3 linked regions of the Homo sapiens genome follow. The protein of the gene in region 1 interacts with the protein of each later gene in a pairwise test. Each region holds a gene or a part of one and is shown in the gene's direction. Other genes may lie near its edges. The genes, in order: GRM1, TERT and LATS2.

The links.
Region 2: the proteins of GRM1 (region 1) and TERT come close enough for resonance energy transfer, tested with the Homo sapiens proteins (one large-scale study listed by BioGRID).
Region 3: the proteins of GRM1 (region 1) and LATS2 come close enough for resonance energy transfer, tested with the Homo sapiens proteins (one large-scale study listed by BioGRID).

The regions. Positions count from the first base shown.
Region 1 is NC_000006.12:146,431,003-146,434,650, forward strand, and holds part of GRM1 (metabotropic glutamate receptor 1 isoform alpha precursor), read left to right. Parts: intron 1-2,869; coding exon 2,870-3,648. UniProt on the Homo sapiens protein: G-protein coupled receptor for glutamate. Ligand binding causes a conformation change that triggers signaling via guanine nucleotide-binding proteins (G proteins) and modulates the activity of down-stream effectors.
Region 2 is NC_000005.10:1,288,514-1,292,161, reverse strand, and holds part of TERT (telomerase reverse transcriptase), read left to right. Parts: intron 1-3,648. UniProt on the Homo sapiens protein: Telomerase is a ribonucleoprotein enzyme essential for the replication of chromosome termini in most eukaryotes. Active in progenitor and cancer cells. Inactive, or very low activity, in normal somatic cells.
Region 3 is NC_000013.11:20,984,981-20,988,628, reverse strand, and holds part of LATS2 (serine/threonine-protein kinase LATS2), read left to right. Parts: coding exon 1-748; intron 749-3,648. UniProt on the Homo sapiens protein: Negative regulator of YAP1 in the Hippo signaling pathway that plays a pivotal role in organ size control and tumor suppression by restricting proliferation and promoting apoptosis.

The DNA.
Region 1 (3,648 bases):
TCTATGGACCACAGGTAAGAAATGACTCATCTTGAAGAACTAAAGTTTGTACTCAGTGCTGCAATGTCTGTGAGATGATACATTCCTTCTACTATGTTTGATTTTTAAAAAGCAGTTTATTTTATCCTTGAAAAAAGATTACACTAATTTTCTTAATCTGATAAATGCCCTGAGGTGTGAGATCTGTTTCCTAATTAAAAGTACTTTACAGCAAATCTAGAGCAAGACTGAGGGGAACGAAAGTTACCAGTTTTGAAGGCCATAGTGAAAATGTCCCATCTCAACAATAAAAATTGGATTTAATTAAAACAGAACTAAATTCTGATTATATCTGTCTGCAACATGATTAATAATACTGTTAACTTATGGGTGCTTTTGATTTAAAAAGAGGCCCACATAGAACCTGTGGACAATGAGGAAAACAGCCCATGTGAATGAGTGGGTGAAGTGGATCACATTAGGGCTTTCAGGAAACAAGGTACCTTTTTGCTATTATGTGTAGAAACTAAGGCAATGTGTCATTGGAACAGCTAAGCCTGCTGGTTGAATTAGAGGCAGATTATTTCTCAAGGGACCTGTTTGTTGTTGTTGTTGTTGTTGTTTTAACACACACACACACACAACTAAATAGATACAGGATAACATTTTGTTTAAGCATTTTCCTGGTGAACATTAAAAAGGCATTTCCTAATGCCTATGAAGAAGTGGGAAGATGGGGAAGGAAACATTTTTTTCATTGCAATTTAAAATGATGCAAATTATTGAGTTGGATGCTATATATAGTAAGGCATACTTAAGGAGGGTAAGAGGCAAATAAGTTTTATATTTGCCTTTCTAGAAGAGGCATATTGAATGCATAAAAAAAACAAAGTGTGTATAGTGGTAGATGATGGGGCAGTTGAAAAAGATTAAGTGGAAGATGAGTTTACCTACAGTTTTAAGCTCAGAAGAGCAACTGTGGATTCTGGTGGTGATTCTGGCTAGCTGGTTGACTACCTGTTCTTGCCAGGGACACCACTGACCTGTTCTTTAGTTTGTTTACCTCAGAAAAGAGTCAGCTATTCCAACAAGATAGTGTGGAAGTCAATAAGACAATTTTTAAAAACTTTACAAGCACTTCCACAGTCTCAGATAATGTGTAAGGCATATATTTGAAAGAAATATTAACTTTGACATAACAGAGATGAGCTTTGTCTTAGACAATTAAAAATGCAGTGTAGGGTATCAGATATATGGAGGAACTACCTATTTCTCAAATAATCAGGTCAAAACTTTAACTGTTTTATCTATTTTAGAGCCTTTATATCCAGAATTTTCTATAATCAATATCAGACATTTACACTCATCTGTACTTATCTGGCTCACTTTACTTTTCAAGATTATAAAATATGAAATGTCAAAATATTACCTTCATCATAAATGATGCTCACATATAATTTTTGAAGTATTCGTTCTTGTATTCTCAAGATGATGAAATAAACCATTATTTAAACTACTGATCATTTCCTACATTTTTTCCAAACAAAAACTAGAATATGGATTAGTCTATTTCACACCTCCACTTAAAGAAAAAAATGTCCATTTTTATATTCCTTTTAATGTCATAAATGTGTTACTATTATGCTACTTTCTCTGTCATTTTACTGAGTACAGAGAAAAAGCAAACTTCTAAAAAAAGAAAAGAAACAATTATTTCCTGATTTAAGGATTCCACCGTTGTTATTAGTAGAAGGCTATGGTAAGGTACCAACATCTGCTTAAAGTTATACAGAAAAGAAGCTGAGTCCAGAAGTGAGATCAGAGTTATTACAATAGACAGAACAGAATTTGGGGTGTAGGCCACAGTACATCTTCTTATTTTCTTATTCAGGGAGAAATTCCATATGGCTGCTTTTCTGTGGGTGCCATGAAGATGGGAGTTGATAAGGCTGGGATGCTCCTGGCACCCTAAGACTCTTCTTCACCAAGGCTCAATGAGTAGAGGTTTTCGTCTCAGTAACTGCTGCTTTGTCTCAATCATAATTTTCTCTTATTTGCATCAAACTATCCTAAAGCAGGATGTGGGCATTTGTATTTTTCCTGGCTTCCTCATTCTATTGCTTTTCAAATACAGCTATTTCAATGTTCCTAGAGTGAAAATCCCAAACCAGCTTCTGTGAGTCAGGGCCTTTGTGTGAATTGTGATCCACTGTATGTGTGAGAAATAATGCATTGAAATGTTTTAAAAAAATCAAAAGCTATGAAGCTCATAAATTGACCATGAGTCTGAGTTTTTCTGTCATCTGCTTTTTTATGTTCCTTATAGGTACCCTGTGTGATCACGCCACCCTGGTCATGGGAAATACTTGCATATGAGAATGGGCAACTGAGAGGATCTATTTTATAATCCCACAACACAACGAGAGTAGCTTTGTATGTGGGTCCTAATTTGTCCCAAGGACAATAGCCATTATTTTGGTTGTCCATGTGTAACTAAGATTTTTTTTTTAAAGTTTTCCTCCATCAGTTGGGAGTTTTTCAAAAGTGTGTGTGTGTGTGTGTGTGTGTGTGTGTGTGTCAGAGAGAGACAGAGGGAGAGGGAGAGAGTGCAACGGAGAAAAAAGAGAGGTTTGTGAAATCTTAGACCTAAATGAAAATAGCTATTTCTACAACAGACTGGCTTTTCTCCTCAACAACTTTTCTCAGGGTCAATATTTCCTTCAGCTTTTGGTGTTCTTTTTGTAAGAGGAGGTATGGGGTGCTGGAGCAAAGGCCTACAGCAGAGACAGCAGTTAAATCACACTGAGCTAGGTTTGCATATGTTTTCTATGTATTTTATCCTGTGTGCATGATCTATCTGCAAATAAATCCATCTCTATTTTATTCATAGTTCTAATGGCAAGTCTGTGTCATGGTCTGAACCAGGTGGAGGACAGGTGCCCAAGGGACAGCATATGTGGCACCGCCTCTCTGTGCACGTGAAGACCAATGAGACGGCCTGCAACCAAACAGCCGTCATCAAGCCCCTCACTAAAAGTTACCAAGGCTCTGGCAAGAGCCTGACCTTTTCAGATACCAGCACCAAGACCCTTTACAACGTAGAGGAGGAGGAGGATGCCCAGCCGATTCGCTTTAGCCCGCCTGGTAGCCCTTCCATGGTGGTGCACAGGCGCGTGCCAAGCGCGGCGACCACTCCGCCTCTGCCGTCCCACCTGACCGCAGAGGAGACCCCCCTCTTCCTGGCCGAACCAGCCCTCCCCAAGGGCTTGCCCCCTCCTCTCCAGCAGCAGCAGCAACCCCCTCCACAGCAGAAATCGCTGATGGACCAGCTCCAGGGAGTGGTCAGCAACTTCAGTACCGCGATCCCGGATTTTCACGCGGTGCTGGCAGGCCCCGGTGGTCCCGGGAACGGGCTGCGGTCCCTGTACCCGCCCCCGCCACCTCCGCAGCACCTGCAGATGCTGCCGCTGCAGCTGAGCACCTTTGGGGAGGAGCTGGTCTCCCCGCCCGCGGACGACGACGACGACAGCGAGAGGTTTAAGCTCCTCCAGGAGTACGTGTATGAGCACGAGCGGGAAGGGAACACGGAAGAAGACGAACTGGAAGAGGAGGAGGAGGACCTGCAGGCGGCCAGCAAACTGACCCCGGATGATTCGCCTGCGCTGACGC
Region 2 (3,648 bases), on another chromosome or scaffold:
GGTGACCTTCTTGGGGCTCTTTTTTTTCTTTTTTTCTTTTTATGGTGGCAAAAGTCATATAACATGAGATTGGCACTCCTAACACCGTTTTCTGTGTACAGTGCAGAATTGCTAACTCGGCGGTGTTTACAGCAGGTTGCTTGAAATGCTGCGTCTTGCGTGACTGGAAGTCCCTACCCATCGAACGGCAGCTGCCTCACACCTGCTGCGGCTCAGGTGGACCACGCCGAGTCAGATAAGCGTCATGCAACCCAGTTTTGCTTTTTGTGCTCCAGCTTCCTTCGTTGAGGAGAGTTTGAGTTCTCTGATCAGGACTCTGCCTGTCATTGCTGTTCTCTGACTTCAGATGAGGTCACAATCTGCCCCTGGCTTATGCAGGGAGTGAGGCGTGGTCCCCGGGTGTCCCTGTCACGTGCAGGGTGAGTGAGGCGTTGCCCCCAGGTGTCCCTGTCACGTGTAGGGTGAGTGAGGCGCGGCCCCCGGGTGTCCCTGTCCCGTGCAGCGTGATTGAGGTGTGGCCCCCGGGTGTCCCTGTCCCGTGCAGGGTGAGTGAGGCACTGTCCCCGGGTGTCCCTGTCACGTGCAGGGTGAGTGAGGCGCGGTCCCCGGGTGTCCCTGTCACGTGTAGGGTGAGTGAGGCACTGTCCCCGGGTGTCCCTCTCAGGTGTAGGGTGAGTGAGGCGCCGTCCCCGGGTGTCCCTGTCACGTGTAGGGTGAGTGAGGCGTGGTCCCCGGGTGTCCCTGTCCCGTGCAGGGTGAGTGAGGCGCTGTCCCCGGGTGTCCCTGTCACGTGCAGGGTGAGTGAGGCGCGGTCCCCGGGTGTCCCTGTCACGTGTAGGGTGAGTGAGGCACCGTCCCTGGGTGTCCCTCCCAGGTGTAGGGTGAGTGAGGCGCTGTCCCCGGGTGTCCCTCTCAGGTGTAGGGTGAGTGAGGCGCGGCCCCAGGTGTCCCTGTCACGTGTAGGGTGAGTGAGGCACCGTCCCTGGGTGTCCCTCCCAGGTATAGGGTGAGTGAGGCACTGTCCCCGGGTGTCCCTGTCACGTGCAGGGTGAGTGAGGCGCGGTCCCCAGGTGTCCCTGTCACGTGTAGGGTGAGTGAGGCACTGTCCCCGGGTGTCCCTGTCCCGTGCAGGGTGAGTGAGGCGCGGTCCCCAGGTGTCCCTGTCCCGTGCAGGGTGAGTGAGGCGCCGTCCCCGGGTGTCCCTGTCACGTGCAGGGTGAGTGAGGCACGGCCCCCGGGTGTCCCTGTCACGTGCAGGGTGAGTGAGGCGCGGCCCCCGGGTGTCCCTGTCACGTGCAGGGTGAGTGAGGCGCGGCCCCCGGGTGTCCCTGTCACGTGCAGGGTGAGTGAGGCGCGGTCCCCGGGTGTCCCTGTCACGTGCAGGGTGAGTGAGGCGCGGTCCCCGGGTGTCCCTGTCACGTGCAGGGTGAGTGAGGCGCGGTCCCCGGGTGTCCCTGTCACGTGCAGGGTGAGTGAGGCACGGTCCCCGGGTGTCCCTGTCCCGTGTAGGGTGAGTGAGGCACTGTCCCCGGGTGTCCCTGTCACGTTCAGGGTGAGTGAGGCGCGGTCCCCGGGTGTCCCTGTCACGTGTAGGGTGAGTGAGGCACCGTCCCCGGGTGTCCCTGTCACGTGCAGGGTGAGTGAGGCGCTGTCCCCGGGTGTCCCTGTCACGTGCAGGGTGATTGACGCGAGGCCCCCGGGTGTCCCTGTCACGTGCAGGGTGAGTGAGGCGCCGTCCCCGCGTGTCCCTGTCACGTGCAGGGTGAGTGAGGCGCCGTCCCCGGGTGTCCCTGTCACGTGTAGGGTGAGTGAGGTGCCGTCCCCGGGTGTCCCTGTCACGTGTAGGGTGAGTGAGGCGCCGTCCCCGGGTGTCCCTGTCACGTTCAGGGTGAGTGAGGCACGGCCCCCGGGTGTCCCTGTCACGTGTAGGGTGAGTGAGGCGCGGTCCCCGGGTGTCACTGTCACGTGTAGGGTGAGTGAGGCACTGTCCCCGGGTGTCCCTGTCACGTGTAGGGTGAGTGAGGCGCGGCCCCCGGGTGTCCCTGTCACGTGCAGGGTGAGTGAGGCGCGGCCCCCGGGTGTCCCTGTCACGTGTAGGGTGAGTGAGGCGCGGCCCCCGGGTGTCCCTGTCACGTGCAGGGTGAGTGAGGCGCGGCCCCCGGGTGTCCCTGTCACGTGCAGGGTGAGTGAGGCGCGGCCCCCGGGTGTCCCTGTCACGTGCAGGGTGAGTGAGGCACGGCCCCCGGGTGTCCCTGTCACGTGCAGGGTGAGTGAGGCGCGGCCCCCGGGTGTCCCTGTCACTTGCAGGGTGAGTGAGGCACTGTCCCCGGGTGTCCCTGTCACGTTCAGGGTGAGTGAGGCGCGGTCCCCGGGTGTCCCTGTCACGTGTAGGGTGAATGAGGCACTGTCCCCGGGTGTCCCTGTCACGTGCAGGGTGAGTGAGGCGCCGTCCCCGGGTGTCCCTGTCACGTGCAGGGTGATTGACGCGAGGCCCCCGGGTGTCCCTGTCACGTGCAGGGTGAGTGAGGCGCCGTCCCCGCGTGTCCCTGTCACGTGCAGGGTGAGTGAGGCGCCGTCCCCGGGTGTCCCTGTCACGTGTAGGGTGAGTGAGGCGCCGTCCCCGGGTGTCCCTGTCACGTGTAGGGTGAGTGAGGCGCCGTCCCCGGGTGTCCCTGTCACGTGTAGGGTGAGTGAGGCGCCGTCCCCGGGTGTCCCTGTCACGTGTAGGGTGAGTGAGGCGCCGTCCCCGGGTGTCCCTGTCACGTGCAGGGTGAGTGAGGCCCCGTCCCCGGGTGTCCCTGTCACGTGTAGGGTGAGTGAGGCACTGTCCCCGGGTGTCTCTGTCACGTGTAGGGTGAGTGAGGCGCCGTCCCTGGGTGTCCCTCTCAGGTGTAGGGTGAGTGAGGCGCCATCCCCGGGTGTCCCTGTCACGTGTAGGGTGAGTGAGGCGCCGTCCCCGGGTGTCCCTGTCACGTGTAGGGTGAGTGAGTTGCGGCCCCCGGGTGTCCCTCTCAGGTGCAGGGTGAGTGAGGCGCTGTCCCTGGGTGTCCCTGTCTCGTGTAGGGTGAGTGAGGCTCTGTCCCCAGGTGTCCTTGGCGTTTGCTCACTTGAGCTTGCTCCTGAATGTTTGCTCTTTCTATAGCCACAGCTGCGCCGGTTGCCCATTGCCTGGGTAGATGGTGCAGGCGCAGTGCTGGTCCCCAAGCCTATCTTTTCTGATGCTCGGCTCTTCTTGGTCACCTCTCCGTTCCATTTTGCTACGGGGACACGGGACTGCAGGCTCTCGCCTCCCGCGTGCCAGGCACTGCAGCCACAGCTTCAGGTCCGCTTGCCTCTGTTGGGCCTGGCTTGCTCACCACGTGCCCGCCACATGCATGCTGCCAATACTCCTCTCCCAGCTTGTCTCATGCCGAGGCTGGACTCTGGGCTGCCTGTGTCTGCTGCCACGTGTTGCTGGAGACATCCCAGAAAGGGTTCTCTGTGCCCTGAAGGAAAGCAAGTCACCCCAGCCCCCTCACTTGTCCTGTTTTCTCCCAAGCTGCCCCTCTGCTTGGCCCCCTTGGGTGGGTGGCAACGCTTGTCACCTTATTCTGGGCACCTGCCGCTCATTGCTTAGGCTGGGCTCTGCCTCCAGTCGCCCCCTCACAT
Region 3 (3,648 bases), on another chromosome or scaffold:
GGGCCTGGAGGCGCCGCCGCGCGCGCACGTGGCCTTCCGGCCTGACTGCCCAGTGCCCAGCAGGACCAACTCCTTCAACAGCCACCAGCCGCGGCCCGGTCCGCCTGGCAAGGCCGAGCCCTCCCTGCCCGCCCCCAACACCGTGACGGCTGTCACGGCCGCGCACATCTTGCACCCGGTGAAGAGCGTGCGTGTGCTGAGGCCGGAGCCGCAGACGGCTGTGGGGCCCTCGCACCCCGCCTGGGTGCCCGCGCCTGCCCCGGCCCCCGCCCCCGCCCCCGCCCCGGCTGCGGAGGGCTTGGACGCCAAGGAGGAGCATGCCCTGGCGCTGGGCGGCGCAGGCGCCTTCCCGCTGGACGTGGAGTACGGAGGCCCAGACCGGAGGTGCCCGCCTCCGCCCTACCCGAAGCACCTGCTGCTGCGCAGCAAGTCGGAGCAGTACGACCTGGACAGCCTGTGCGCAGGCATGGAGCAGAGCCTCCGTGCGGGCCCCAACGAGCCCGAGGGCGGCGACAAGAGCCGCAAAAGCGCCAAGGGGGACAAAGGCGGAAAGGATAAAAAGCAGATTCAGACCTCTCCCGTTCCCGTCCGCAAAAACAGCAGAGACGAAGAGAAGAGAGAGTCACGCATCAAGAGCTACTCGCCATACGCCTTTAAGTTCTTCATGGAGCAGCACGTGGAGAATGTCATCAAAACCTACCAGCAGAAGGTTAACCGGAGGCTGCAGCTGGAGCAAGAAATGGCCAAAGTAATTTCACACTTCATTTTTACTATTTGTTCCCGGCTCATCCCTCTACTGGCAATAGGAAGCACGCACAATCCCTTTTCTGTTTCGACTGTATACCCCTTATCATCAAAACGGCTAATGGGCGACAGTCTGGTTCTGGGGCCAACAACTTGGAGAAGTTGCAAATGGTGTGACCTCCCTTTCGCCTTTCCCCTTGACTCTTCTGAAGAATCAGAGATAGCTGTGCATAATGTAGCCAGCGTAATGTAGGTAATCTACAATTTACATTGTAGGTAAATTAGCAAATTAAGTTTTAGGGTATGTCCTCGCTTAACAAAATTCATCATGGATTAATAATAGAACATTTGAATGAGTAGAAACAAAGTTTAAGGTTTTGTAAATTGAGATTGTGGGATTTTGGAAGAAAAATGTATCTAGTAGTGATTCCATTTATTCTTTTAAGTGTTTAGTTAGTAACTAATGATTTAAATATACCTTAGTTGACACTGAAGTGCTGAAGAAGGTAATTATTGATGAAACTATTTAAATTAAAATGTAACAGATTTAAATCACACAAAGCCAATAATTCCAAAGCCTGAAAACCAGATTTGTGTTCTTTTCAGTGTCCCGTATTCACTGATTTTTTTACAGATATACTTTTCATTTGTGTTTTTTTTATTTTTATTTTTTATTTTTTAATTTATTTTTAGACGGAGTCTTGCTCTGTCACCCAGGCTGGAGCGCAATGGCGCGATCTTGGCTCGCTGCAACCTCTGCCTCCTGGGTTCAAGCGATTCTCCTGCCTCAGCTTCCCGAGTAGTTGGGGTTACAGGTGCCTACCACCACGCCTGGCCATTTTTTTGTGTTTTTAGTAGAGACGGGGGTTTCGCCATGTTGGTCAGACTGGTCTCGAACTCTTGACCTCAGGTGATCTGCCCACCTCGGCCTCCCCAAGTGCTGGAATTACACGTGTGAGCCACCACACCCAGCCGTTTATTTTTTATTTATACATAGTATTTGTAGATTTGTGGGGAACATGTGATATTTTGTTACATGCATAGGATATGTAATGATCAAGTCAAGGTATTTAGAGTATCCATTGCCTGGTGTATTTATCATTTCTGTGTTGGAAGCATTTCAAGACCTCTCTTCTAGCTATTTTGAAATATTGAATACATTTTTACTAACCATAGTCATACTAGTTAGAGTTTGTTCCTTCTATCCAGCTGTATGTTTGCACCAATTAACTTCTCATCTCCCCTCAACACACACACACCCTTTCCCACCTCTGGTAACTATCATTCTACTCTCTACCTCTATGAGATCAATTATTTTAGCTCCCACATATCAGTAACAGTGTGTGGTGTTCTAACCGAACTTCTGTTCCTGGCTTATTTCACTTAACATAATGACCTCCAGTTCCATTCATGTTGCTCCAAATGACAGGATTTCATTCTTTTTTATGGCTGAATAGTATCCCATGGTGTACACAGACCACATTTTCTTTATCTGTTCATCAGTTGATGGACACTTCAGTTGATTCCATGTTTTTACTGTTGTGAATAGTGCTGCAATAAACATGGGGTGCAGGTATCCCTTTGATATACTGATTTCCTTTCCTTTAGATAAATACCCAATAATGGGTTTGGTAGATTGTATGGTAGTTCTATTTTTAGTTTCTTTTTTTTCCTTTTTGATAATAGTCGTTCTAACTGGGGAGAGATTATATCTCATTGTGGTTTTCATTTGCATTTCCCTGATGGTTAATGAGCATCTTTCCATGCACCTCTTAGCCATTTGTGTATCTTCTTTTGACAAGTGTCTATTCAGGTCATTAGCTCACTTTTTTTTCTTTTTGAGACAGAGTTTCGCTCTTGTTGCCCAGGCTGGAGTGCAATGGCACGATCTCAGCTCACCACAACCTCCGCCTCCCGGGTTCAAGTGATTCTCCTGCCTCAGCCTACCGAGCAGCTGGGATTACAGGCATGCACCACCACGCCCAGCTAGTTTTATGTTTTTGTAGAGACAGGGTTTCACCATGTTGTTCAGGCTGGTCTCAAACTTCCGACCTCAGATGATCCACCTGTCTCAGCCTCCCAGGGTGCTGGGATTACAGGTGTGAGCCACCGCGCCTGGCCTTATTTTATTTATTTATTTTTTAATTAAGACGGAGTCTTGCTCTATTGCCCAGGCTGGAGTGCAGTGGTGAAATCTCGGCTCACTGCAACCTCTGCCTTCTGGATTCAAGCTATTCTCCTGCCTCAGCCTCCTGAGAGCTGGGACTACAGGTGTGCGACACCATGCTCAGCTAATTTTTGTATGTTTAGTAGAGACGGGGTTTCACCATGTTAGTCAGGCTGGTCTCAAACTCCTGACCTCAAGTAATCCGCCTGCCTCAGCCTCCCAAAGTGCTGGGATTACAGGCGTGAGCCACCATATCTGGCCTTTTGGCTTACTTTTTAATGGGATTATTTGATATTTTTTTTGCTGTTGAGTTGAGTTCCTTGTATATTCTGAATAATAGTCTTTTGTCAGATGAATAGTTTGTGAATATTTTCTCCTGTTCAACACAGGTATCCTCTTTACTCTGTTGTTTCCTTTGCTCTGCAGAAGCTTTTTAGCTTAATATAGTCCCATTTGTCTACTTTGGGGTTTTTTTGCCTGTGCTTTTGAGATTTTAGCCATAAAAATCTTTGCTCAAACCAATGTCCTGGAGTATATTTTCATAGCCTCTGGTCTTATTTCTAGGTCTTTAATCTGTTTTAAGTTGACATTCCTATATGGTGAGAGATTGGGGTCTAGTTTCATTCTTCTGCATATGGATATCTAGTTTTCCCAGCATGTCTCTTTTTCAGTGTACATTCTTGGCACCGTTGTCAAAAATCAGGTGGCTGTAAATACGTGGACTTATTTCTGGGTTC